Linked DNA regions of Homo sapiens: region 2 is linked to region 1. The links come from fine-mapping of genetic effects on gene expression. Tissue or cell type: lung. Region 1 holds a variant in brackets; the other region holds the start of a gene. All regions are shown on one strand. Distances are from middle to middle. Region 1 overlaps TFPI (tissue factor pathway inhibitor). Region 2 holds the start of TFPI (tissue factor pathway inhibitor).

Region 1 (5,396 bases):
AATCGCTTTCATACTGCTATTGCCATACAAATTATCGTGTCCAAGGTTATTATTATTAGTCCTCAAAGACAATTATTGGTAATATAAATACACTTAAAATTCTAGTGTGCTAAACCACATTGAGTTAATTGGCATGTATATTACCTGAATTAATCCTATTTACAATGTAACAGTAAACAAACAAAATAGATGTTCTTTTAAAAATTGTATTAATCAAGCATTTATATATTCCCATCTTATGACTATTGTCAATAGGTAAATCAGGAATGAAAATTGCTTAGTGTTCTAGTCTTATGTACTCATTATATGTATACATTTCTTTCTTCTTATCAATTAAATCATATTAGTTTTATATCTAAATATTTTAATGTCAGGTTATATGACAGTCTACAATCTAGTTGAAAACATTAATATGAAGTTGGTTAGTTGCAGTGAAAACAAAGTAAACCAAAAAACTTACCTCAATAGATACAGCTATACATATACACACACACACACACCTCTTTTTTTAAAAGGCTATTGAATAAAACATAGTACAATTAGAAAAGAAGTTTGGGTCCGTTAGTTTCACTTTCATAGACATTTTACTCTCCATAGAAGAATTAACTATTTCAAGAAAAAAAGGATGATGCAGTTGCTGAAAGAGGCTTATAACCCAATTCATATTATTTCTCTCATTCTTTCTTCCCTTCTCTCTCTCGCTCCCTTTCTATCTCTCTGGTCATATAACGAATGCTAACCTGCTTTGACCAAAGATTTTCTCTGCAAAACAAATAATTCCACAACAAAATAAATACCACTCAACTTTCCTAATGTCTATGCGAGCAAATTAAAACTTCATAGATTTATTTTGTCAATTTAAATTTCATTACCTATCATTTAAATTAGAACTTAGAATTCATACTTGGAATATGGTAGGACAAAGACAACTAACATTCCAGTTTTAGAGGGAAATGATTCCGTTAATCAAATGTTAAACCAAACAACGTGTCCCAGATGCCTTTTGTTTCATTTCTTCTCTACATTGGTAATAATAATGAAACTTGCAATTGGATTGAGACAACGAAGCAGGGGAAAGAATAAGGAAAGGAAATAATTCTGGTTAATTTCACTTTTATTCCCAGTTATCTAACAAATTATTTTTATATGTAATGTAGGCTGCTTGAATTACTTTCATATTTCACATTTTTAAAATAATTGTTTTAAGTATAGATATCCTGAACAGTAAACATAGTCACTATGAATTCTCAGCTTTGTAAGTGTGTTAGAAAGTTTTATCATAGTTTCTAAAACATTACTCTATTGAAATGAAGTGGCTTCATGGTTACAATAAATAGAAAAGATTAATTTTTAGAGAAAAGAAAAAGAAATTCAATTTTTATTAAGACATTCTGTATAAGAATAATTTTAATGGTAATAAATATGTCACTCTTGTTTGTTAAATTCAAATTCATAGTATTACTTTATAAATTGTGACAATTGATATGCATATATTCTTTTGATTACAGATAATGCAAACAGGATTATAAAGACAACATTGCAACAAGGTGAACATTTATTTGTCTGTAAATTTGAAGCATTTATGTAAGGCATTTAGATATTCAATTTTTTGTTTGTTTGCTTGTTTGTTTTTTCTGGTCCCTGATTCAGTATAGATATTCAATTCTTAAGTTTCTCTGAGATTGATTTAAAAAAATCCATAAAAGAGATTGATCATAAACCCATATGACAGATTGATCATGTCATTTTTGAAATGATTTGTTGCATGATTCAATGGACATAATCAAAAATTAGGAAAATATATACATTATATTTGTCAGAGGAGGCTCCAAACACCGTATTTACTCTAATTCTAATGTAGTATGATATTTAGTTTTAGTTCAATCATAGTCCAGAGCCACACATGCTATTTTAACACCTTCCAGATAGAGATTTAGATATTTTGAGTCTTAACTTTATTTCTCTGATCTCTAATCACTTGTTAATCTAATCAACATTGTGTGGCTTTAGCAAGTTTCACCAAATATTCCCTTGAATGGATGTATGTCTCTGAGTTGTCAGCAGTTATACATGCAAAAGTAAGTAGAGATATTTAAAAATAAATATCTAGCATGTATGTGTATGTTTAATTGTGTAATTTAAATCATATCATTTATTGTTTTTAGCTAAAAATAATTACTTTTTCACAAATATATCAGCACAAGAAAAAATGTTATCAATGGATCAGGGAAACCAACGTCCTTTTAATAAAGGCCTGGAAACTGATTTGGTCCAATTGTCAGTTATGGCATTTACATTTCAATGAGAAAATATTGAACAAAGAGATTAAATTGTTTAACTCAGGACATGAAAGACCGCAACATGAAAGACCACAAAATTCAAAGTGCATTTTAATTTTATTTATTTTGATTTATTTATGTGGGAAAGAGTTGAAAATTTCTGTGACACATTGATAATCTTTAGGCTCAATTCACTGACCAGAATTGGAATCAAAATGTATAAAATAAAGATAATAGCAAAGTTTGTACAAGAAACATAACTAAATGTA[C/TGTAC]TTACAATTTTAAAAAATAGATTCCTATAAATATTAAAATAATCTTGACCAAAATGTTTAGTACTTTAATTAAATGAAGGCCTTATCTGTAATATCAAAATGGCATATTTATAATAAAGAAGTTTTTGTCTACAAAGGAGAATAAATATTTTTGTGAAAGAAAATACCAACCTTTAAATATTAGGACCTTTTACCAAAAACATAAAATTAGAGAAAAATTAAATACAGGTACTATTTTTAGGTAAAATTATGCTATAAAGTGTATATTTATAATTCAGAATTCAATCATTCTTATCTCATATTATATATGAAAGTTAGAGAATAAAGCTGTGTTCACATGAATGTTAAAAATGCTTACATGTTAACACCTATTTGTAACAAAGACTTGATCAATTTCGAGTGAACTTTGTATTATGCTTCCTAGCATTGGACCATTATAAAGAGATTTGAGATTTAATACAATCCCTTAGAAAGAAAGTTTGGTCCAAGACAATTCCCAAGTATTCAGGCCCAAACAAAAGTTGACAGTGATAATGCTTTAGCTTATCCAGTCTGCATTCTGTGTTACTCAAGTGCAACTGAGCACCAACTTAGAGCAAGGGTTATGTATGCAAATTCAATAAGAAGGTTAATTTATTTACCTGAAGAAAATGGGAAATTAATTTTTTGATTTGCAACTGTAGTTTAAACTGCAGGCCAAAAAAAGAATTATTTTACATGTGTCCATTTTCAACTTTGTCTTCACATAAGTTCATGTTTCCCAATGTAGTTTCATATGAAAAATAACAACTTTCAGTTGTACAGTTTATTGTTTGTTGTGGTTTTGTTTGTTTATTTTTAATTTTTGTGGGTACATATTAGGTGTATATATTTATGTACATGTATAATTTCTTAATTATACTTATCAGCATAATTTTTTATACCTTTATGTTTTTTATATGCAATATTTTTCCTCCATCCACTTTTGGCAAACATAAAGTTCTTGTATCCTCTGTTCAGATCATTTAAAATTTCATAAAAAGTACACATTAAGACTAAAACAAATCATATGATAGTAATTCAATGTATTTTTACCTTATAAAATGTTATAACATTTTAAAGAATTGTTTTATTCCTTTCCCCCACATATTATTACAATTAACTAAAAATCATAAAAACATTCATTTGAAAGATCAAGAGGCAATACAGAAGAAACAAAGTTAACTTTCAAATTAATACATTGAAAAGTTACAGAAAATAGACTTTTAAAACTATATTATAGTAGGAAGTTTTACTTAATAAAATAACTTTTCAATAAGGAGTTTGTTCTTTTGCAGATCTGCAACTGTTGCAGAAATCATTAACATTATTAAATACATGTTCTTTTTTATTGTAAAATACTTGTGGGTATTGCTTCCCTGACATAGAAGAACAAGTTGCTTTAAGATGAAAAAAGGTTACCACAGTTCAGTTTTGCCAATATGGTAATATACTTGCAGGAAAAAAATTGAGAAATTGGAATTTTGTTCTAAAAATTCAAGCCCAATACGCCTGTGAGCATAATAATTTTGAAAATTAGCTCACTTCTTTTCACAGTGCATGCATGTAGACAGAGCTGGTGATGTAGATCACAGTGGCACAACTTTTATGACAGCTGTGTTTAGCCTGCTTTGGAGCACTATCAAAGAAGAAGTATTAGTCTTTTGCAAAAGCCTCTCCAATCCTTGAACATGTATTTCCTTTCTGCCTCTGCATTATTGAAGTCATTCCAATGACAAGAAGAAGGAAAAAATAAAAATGACACAGCAGTAAAGGATGTCCTACCTAGTACAGATATTAATTCCCGCATAAGAATTCAGGAACTTCTAAGGCTAGCCATGAAAACTTCCTACCCCTCAAATATTCTTTTTCAACTTTTAAAAATTTAAACCATTCTTAATGGAGCAACGCACTACAATGCTTTTCCTGAGAAGCCACCCTCAATAGCTTGAAATGTTCATAGACCTTCCCTAAATGTTAATACACATGAACATATTAAAAATAATTAAACCACATTTTTGCCATAATGTTTTGTAATTTCAAAGCAAGAGTGGTACATGGTAAAATAATCTTTTATTCCTTAAATTTGTAAAAAAATGACAGTTAATTCCCTATTAATTTACTATGAGAAATTTAGAATTTGAAATGCCAATCCCAAAATATGGTAGATAATTTTAATAGTGTATATTTATGGATAAAGTTAGATTTTTACTTTTTAATTTTTATGCTTACTCCTTCAATAACTTAGCCAGGTATTTATAAATTTTATTAAAATCAGTAATTTATTTACACAAAAGAATATTGCTTTCTGACATTTTTATAATTTCTAGAAAAGCCAGATTTCTGCTTTTTGGAAGAAGATCCTGGAATATGTCGAGGTTATATTACCAGGTATTTTTATAACAATCAGACAAAACAGTGTGAACGTTTCAAGTATGGTGGATGCCTGGGCAATATGAACAATTTTGAGACACTGGAAGAATGCAAGAACATTTGTGAAGATGGTCGTAAGTTTATTTCTTATTTCATTTTAGTTCATTTATAGGCATCCTTTTAAAACTAAGGCATCTCAGATGGCATTCTATACTCAGGTTTTGTTTGAGCCATGCAAATGAAGATATATTTGTGTGCATTCAATGTGAGATTTGTGACTGTAGTTTTTTAAAAAGCACAGAAAATTAAGAAATTATTTTCATAGATCTAATACTTTTTATGTTGCATTATTTAATTCTTCTTCCTGAGAATACTGCAGTACAATTTTGGCACAATAGAATTGCTGAAATCTTTCACATTTATACAAATATGAGAGCAAACAGTTACTGAAAACCAC
Region 2 (5,396 bases), 67 kb before region 1:
ATCTCAGACGATGGGCGGCTGGGCAGAGAGGCTCCTCACTTCCTAGATGGGATGGCGGCCGGGAAGAGGCGCTCCTCACTTCCTAGATGGGATGGCGGCCAGGCAGAGACACTCCTCACTTTCCAGACTGGGCAGCCAGGCAGAGGGGCTCCTCACATCCCAGACAATGGGCGGCCAGGCAGAGACGCTCCTCACTTCCCAGGCGGGGTGGCGGCCGGGCAGAGGCTGCAATCTCTGCACTTTGGGAGGCCAAGGGAGGCGGCTGGGAGGTGGAGGTTGTAGCGAGCTGAGATCACGCCACTGCACTCCAGTCTGGGCGCCATTGAGCACTGAGTGAACCAGACTCCGTCTGCAATCCCGGCACCTCAGGAGGCCGAGGCTGGTGGATCACTCGCGGTTAGGAGCTGGAGACCAGCCCGGCCAACACAGCGAATCCCCGTCTCCACCAAAAAAATACGAAAACCAGTCAGGCGTGGCGGCGCGCCTGCAATTGCAGGCACTCAGCAGGCTGAGGCAGGAGAATCAGGCAGGGAGGTTGCAGTGAGCTGAGATGGCAGCAGTACAGTCTAGCTTCTGCTCGGCATCAGAGGGAGACTGTGGAAAGAGAGGGAGAGGGAGACCGTGAGAGGGAGAGGGAGAGGGAGACGGAGAGGGAGAGGGAGAGGGAGAGGGAGAGGGAGGAGAGGCGAAACTTTCAAGAAAGAAAATCTGATTGGCTGAGCTTGCCTCTACCTGAGCTACAGATTCCTCAAAAGTTTAATCAAGGTCCATGGTGGTACCAAGAAAAAAGGACTTTCCTCTACAATCTGAGTGAGATGATAGCTTTGATTGTGGTTGAGGGGCAGGGCATGAGGTAATAGGAGATAAGTTATTAACATGATATGAAATCCAGAACATGAGTGAGAAGGCAGCATGGAGGAGGATTTATGCATTTTTGCTCTAAAGGCAGACTGCATGACATTAGAATCACAGCTCCACATACTGAACTCGATCTTCCTAGACATGTGAAATGGGCATACAAAGAGGACCTTCTTTATAAGCTAGTTGTGAGAATTAAATCGATAATTTATGTTCCAGTCACCACCAAATAATTATTCAATATGTATTAAAAACACTCAAGATGAAAGGTTACCTTTTACAGAGAGGTCTAAGGAAAGCAAGAAAAATTGAAGGCACAAAGAATCTGAGATGCAGAAGCAAGAAACTCCTACATTTTCTGACCAAATGTCTTCAGCCTTCCTGGCAAAGTAGATTCTGCCCATTTATTAGATCTCTAGTGATCTTAGTCTGATATGACCATAATTCCAATACAGAGACAGTACGGATGAACCTCAATGATAGGGACATACAGCAGAGACTCTGGTTGACATCTGTAAATATTTACATATTTTGTAGAATAATAATAATAGAAATACAGAAAACAGCGATAATGATAGCCAACAATTATTGGAGGTTTGCTACATGCTGGGTCCTGCCTTAAGTACTTTTTATGTATTAAGCCATTTAGTACTTACATCAAGCCCAGAAACTTTTATTATCGACATTTTAGGAACAAAGGAACTGAGGCATAGTGAATTCAAATAACTGGGCTGAGTAGCCAAGTTAGCAAGTAGCTAAGGTAGGGCTCAAAGCCTGACACCTGCAATAGATAATGCATTACATTGTCTCACTAAGAGAGACCTCCAACGGTAGCCCTCAGACTTTTAAAAAAAATAAATACATTGACAGTGGGTGAAACAAATGAAATAACTTGAAGAAGAAACAAACTGCAAAAAAGCTTATTAACAGTGTAATAATAAATATGTAATTTTTTAAACCCTAACTCTAGGGGGAAAAAAGCATTCTTTTTCAACTGATTACAAAAACAATCCTGGAAAGTAAAGGAAATAGCTATTCAAAATGATCGTATCTGAAATCTTGGTGTAAGCTGTTTCCTTCATCTGTTTCCTCCACTAAAAAAAAGAAAGAAAGAAAGAAAAAAGAGGTTTAGACTAAATAGAGTCAGAGTTGCAGTGACCTAAACAGGAAGTTGGGCTATTCCCAACTGCCAGTGATCTCTGAAGCCGACTCTGAGGCTCCCTCTTTGCTCTAACAGACAGCAGCGACTTTAGGCTGGATAATAGTCAAATTCTTACCTCGCTCTTTCACTGCTAGTAAGATCAGATTGCGTTTCTTTCAGTTACTCTTCAATCGCCAGTTTCTTGATCTGCTTCTAAAAGAAGAAGTAGAGAAGATAAATCCTGTCTTCAATACCTGGAAGGAAAAACAAAATAACCTCAACTCCGTTTTGAAAAAAACATTCCAAGAACTTTCATCAGAGATTTTACTTGTGAGTACCTGGCAATATACTGTCTAGCCCATAAGAAATAACTTTAATTTCTTTTTCTCGGGGGAAAAGCAGGGTGCTGAGAGGCAAAGAACTGATAGGGGAGGATCACTGTTTATTTGCGTAAAATGAAAATCAGCCCTTCCCTGTAAACAGAGTAAACTCAAACTGCAATCCAAACTTGAGTTCTCAGCATTTTGCATTTAGTTCTTAAGCAAATTTATGTGCAATTTTTATGATTTTAAACCATAAACATTTTTGTAACTAATTGGTGTATGTAGCTTTTTTATAATTTGAAGATTGTAGTAGAATTCTTTACTAATTGTGCTTGGTTAATTGGAAGTTCTTGAAAGTTCGGTTTACCTTTCCATTTTATTTCATAACATATAAAATAGAGACTGTTATTCTTCTATTCAAATAATCTTTCAATACTATTAGTTGATGATATTTAAAATGAGGTATAACCATTAAAATAATCGTAATCTAAATGGAATATTTTATGCCAGCATTAACTAATCTCTCTAAGGAAATATTTTACAATTCTCCAAAGACCAAAGGTCATATTCTGAGATACTTAAACGAGAATACTTACGATCAAGTCTATGTTGTGCAATTTTGTAAATTAAAACAATAGATAACATGCCTACATGATGTACTGTTATGTTCCTGTTATAAAATGTTTGCTTCTAGTGAAAAATGAAAGCATATAATACAGCAGTAAACAACCACAGAAATATAATGAGAGAAACAATTATTTAATTATGAAAAAGCACTCATTAGTATAAAATAATTACCAAAAATAAGGGCCAAGAGTACTACCATGTGGGAAAAAAGAAAAGATAAGCAACAGCCACACTGTGACTCAGTGCTCTGGAAATTAGTCACAAAATGACTTTGTATAACATGAGATAATATAAACACAAAGGGCAAAACTCAAGCAGGAAACATACTGCCCAGAGAGTCATATTTCATGTGTAAAAGCATAATATTTACATGAAAGGGGGAAAGTTGTGACAATTTTGAGAGATACTGCAAAACTTTTGAATAAAATGTGTTAGGGAGGCAAAATCTCCCTAACACATTTTAAAGATTATTTTAAATCTATCATTCTAGTGCATGATTATTTCAATATACAGTGTCCATATCTCATCTAATCCTTAAACTAAAGAGGGATAGTCCCTGAAATTTGGCTGAGTTTGAAATGTTAATTTGTGGCCTACAGCTTAATAAAATTATATGAAATATAATTAGGGATCAACAAAGATTGAAAAATATTAATGTAAATACAGATAACTAATCAAGTAATTTTAAAATAAGAGTAAAACTTTAAAATATTTATTTTTACTGATTTGAGTAGTTATATTGGAAAACCAAGTTTTTCTACTTCAAGTGACCACAGAATCTTGTTGGAAAAGTTTAATGACATATACTACTATTTGATTCCTATCTCTATTAGGTATACTGAATTGGACAAGTTTTTGTTTTGTTTTGTTTCTTTGTTTTTAAGGTACAGTCTGATATCTTTTGTTTTACCACCAATGACTAAATCAAAACTCCTTTGGAAATGTGGTTCCTGTCCAAATGGATTATGTTATCAACTGGTGTTTGATGGTCTGACTGATTGTCCATTTATCAGTCAGATAATCATTTAAGGAAATGATTATCATTTGCTTGTTGATTGTACAACTATTTTGACTTAAATCTTCTGTCATAAAACTTATTGTTAAATTAATAATACATAAAATGATAACATATTTTGTAATAAACTCTAATTTTCAAAACAGCTTAATTATCTTAAAAATTAATTTTCTAATCTTTAGAAATCTTTTGTTTACATCTTTCAAATTCAAGAGGTAAGTGGGCAGGATGGCAAACTAATGGAGAAAAAATGCCAACTTTAGAGACTTAATTTAATGCCAGAGTGCCTATCCATCTAACCAAATAGTAAATATGCTATCAATTCCTTAGGAATGGTTGGCTGATTAAATTCAGTGTCACAAAATTTTAAGGTATCTTTCAACTGATATCTCTACCTAATACAAGAAAAAAAATGCAAAGTAAACATCCTTACAAAAAATAAAAAGGAACAGACAATATGAAAAGTGAAGAAAATTACTTAGACTAGGATTTTCAAAAAAATCTTATCAGTATAAATTAATTAAATTGAATTATAATATAGGTTAAAATGGGTTAATTATATCATCAATTTATTTTTTTCTATGTGGACATGATCTAAGAATTGTACTACAATACAACTCATCTATTCTCAATAAAGGCCTTCTACAACCAGCCATCCTTTTTTGTTTACCATCTATAGCAATTAACTCATTTTAGGAATTAAATTTGGCAGGCTGCCTTTTTAAAACACAAATATATTTTCATGCATTAGTGTCAAAGGTAGATTCTGCTATCTTTTATAGAAATATAGCAGTACTATAATTCTTTCTGATTGCTACAATGTGCATTAGGAGAAACTTGAATTCAATAGACATGTGTTTCTGGATATCAAATCTCACCAGAAACAGGGAAGTGTTCAAGTGTTTCCAGCAAGTTCTCTTCATAATAGACCATCTTTCCTGGCTTTCTGAAATCCTCACTGACTGCTTTCTTGGTGTTATGTATCAATTCCGGGGGCCCAGTCTTCCCATTACCTTTCTCTCCCTGTCTTCACTTCTCCAAGTGTCAGGTGCCAAGTAGAACCACAGCCTGAGATTCAACTACCAGTAGCTACCAGTTGCTGAAGGCAACTTCTTCACCTCTACTTTTCTTCTTCCTCAAACCGACAATAACAGAAAGTATGGGCCCATGTCAAATCCACTGTTTTCTCTTTAAGCCTCTATTTGGGATGCTATGTCCTCTCTTAGTTGGAACAACCAGGTGTTAAAATTACTTCAAAAACAAAAGAATATAAGGACATCATGGCCCATAATAGAAGTTCCAATGCTGCAGTACAACTATCCCAATTGTTCCATGTGATGGACCACAGGTCTCTGTGTAGACTTGGAATTATTGCAAGGAATTACCCAGTCAATATGTGAGTAAAAAATATTATATATTGCTTATTAGGGCA

Evidence for each region. PIP is the estimated chance that this variant, and not a neighbour inherited with it, causes the effect.
Region 2: it holds the start of TFPI, and the variant in region 1 is the best candidate, but not a certain one, in a credible set for the expression of TFPI in lung (TOPMed, PIP 0.72).

The regions. Positions count from the first base shown.
Region 1 is chr2:187,484,488-187,489,883 of GRCh38, reverse strand. TFPI (tissue factor pathway inhibitor) reads left to right here. Exons shown (of 8, transcript NM_006287.6): 4 at 1,509-1,547; 5 at 4,897-5,073. All of the region lies in intron 2 of CALCRL-AS1 (CALCRL and TFPI antisense RNA 1), which reads right to left. Among named protein-coding and RNA genes, the nearest start is that of CALCRL, 39 kb to the right of the region's middle. The variant C/TGTAC (reference allele first, on the strand shown) is at 2,549.
Region 2 is chr2:187,551,133-187,556,528 of GRCh38, reverse strand. It overlaps TFPI (tissue factor pathway inhibitor), which reads left to right and starts at 2,094. Exons shown (of 8, transcript NM_006287.6): 1 at 2,094-2,329.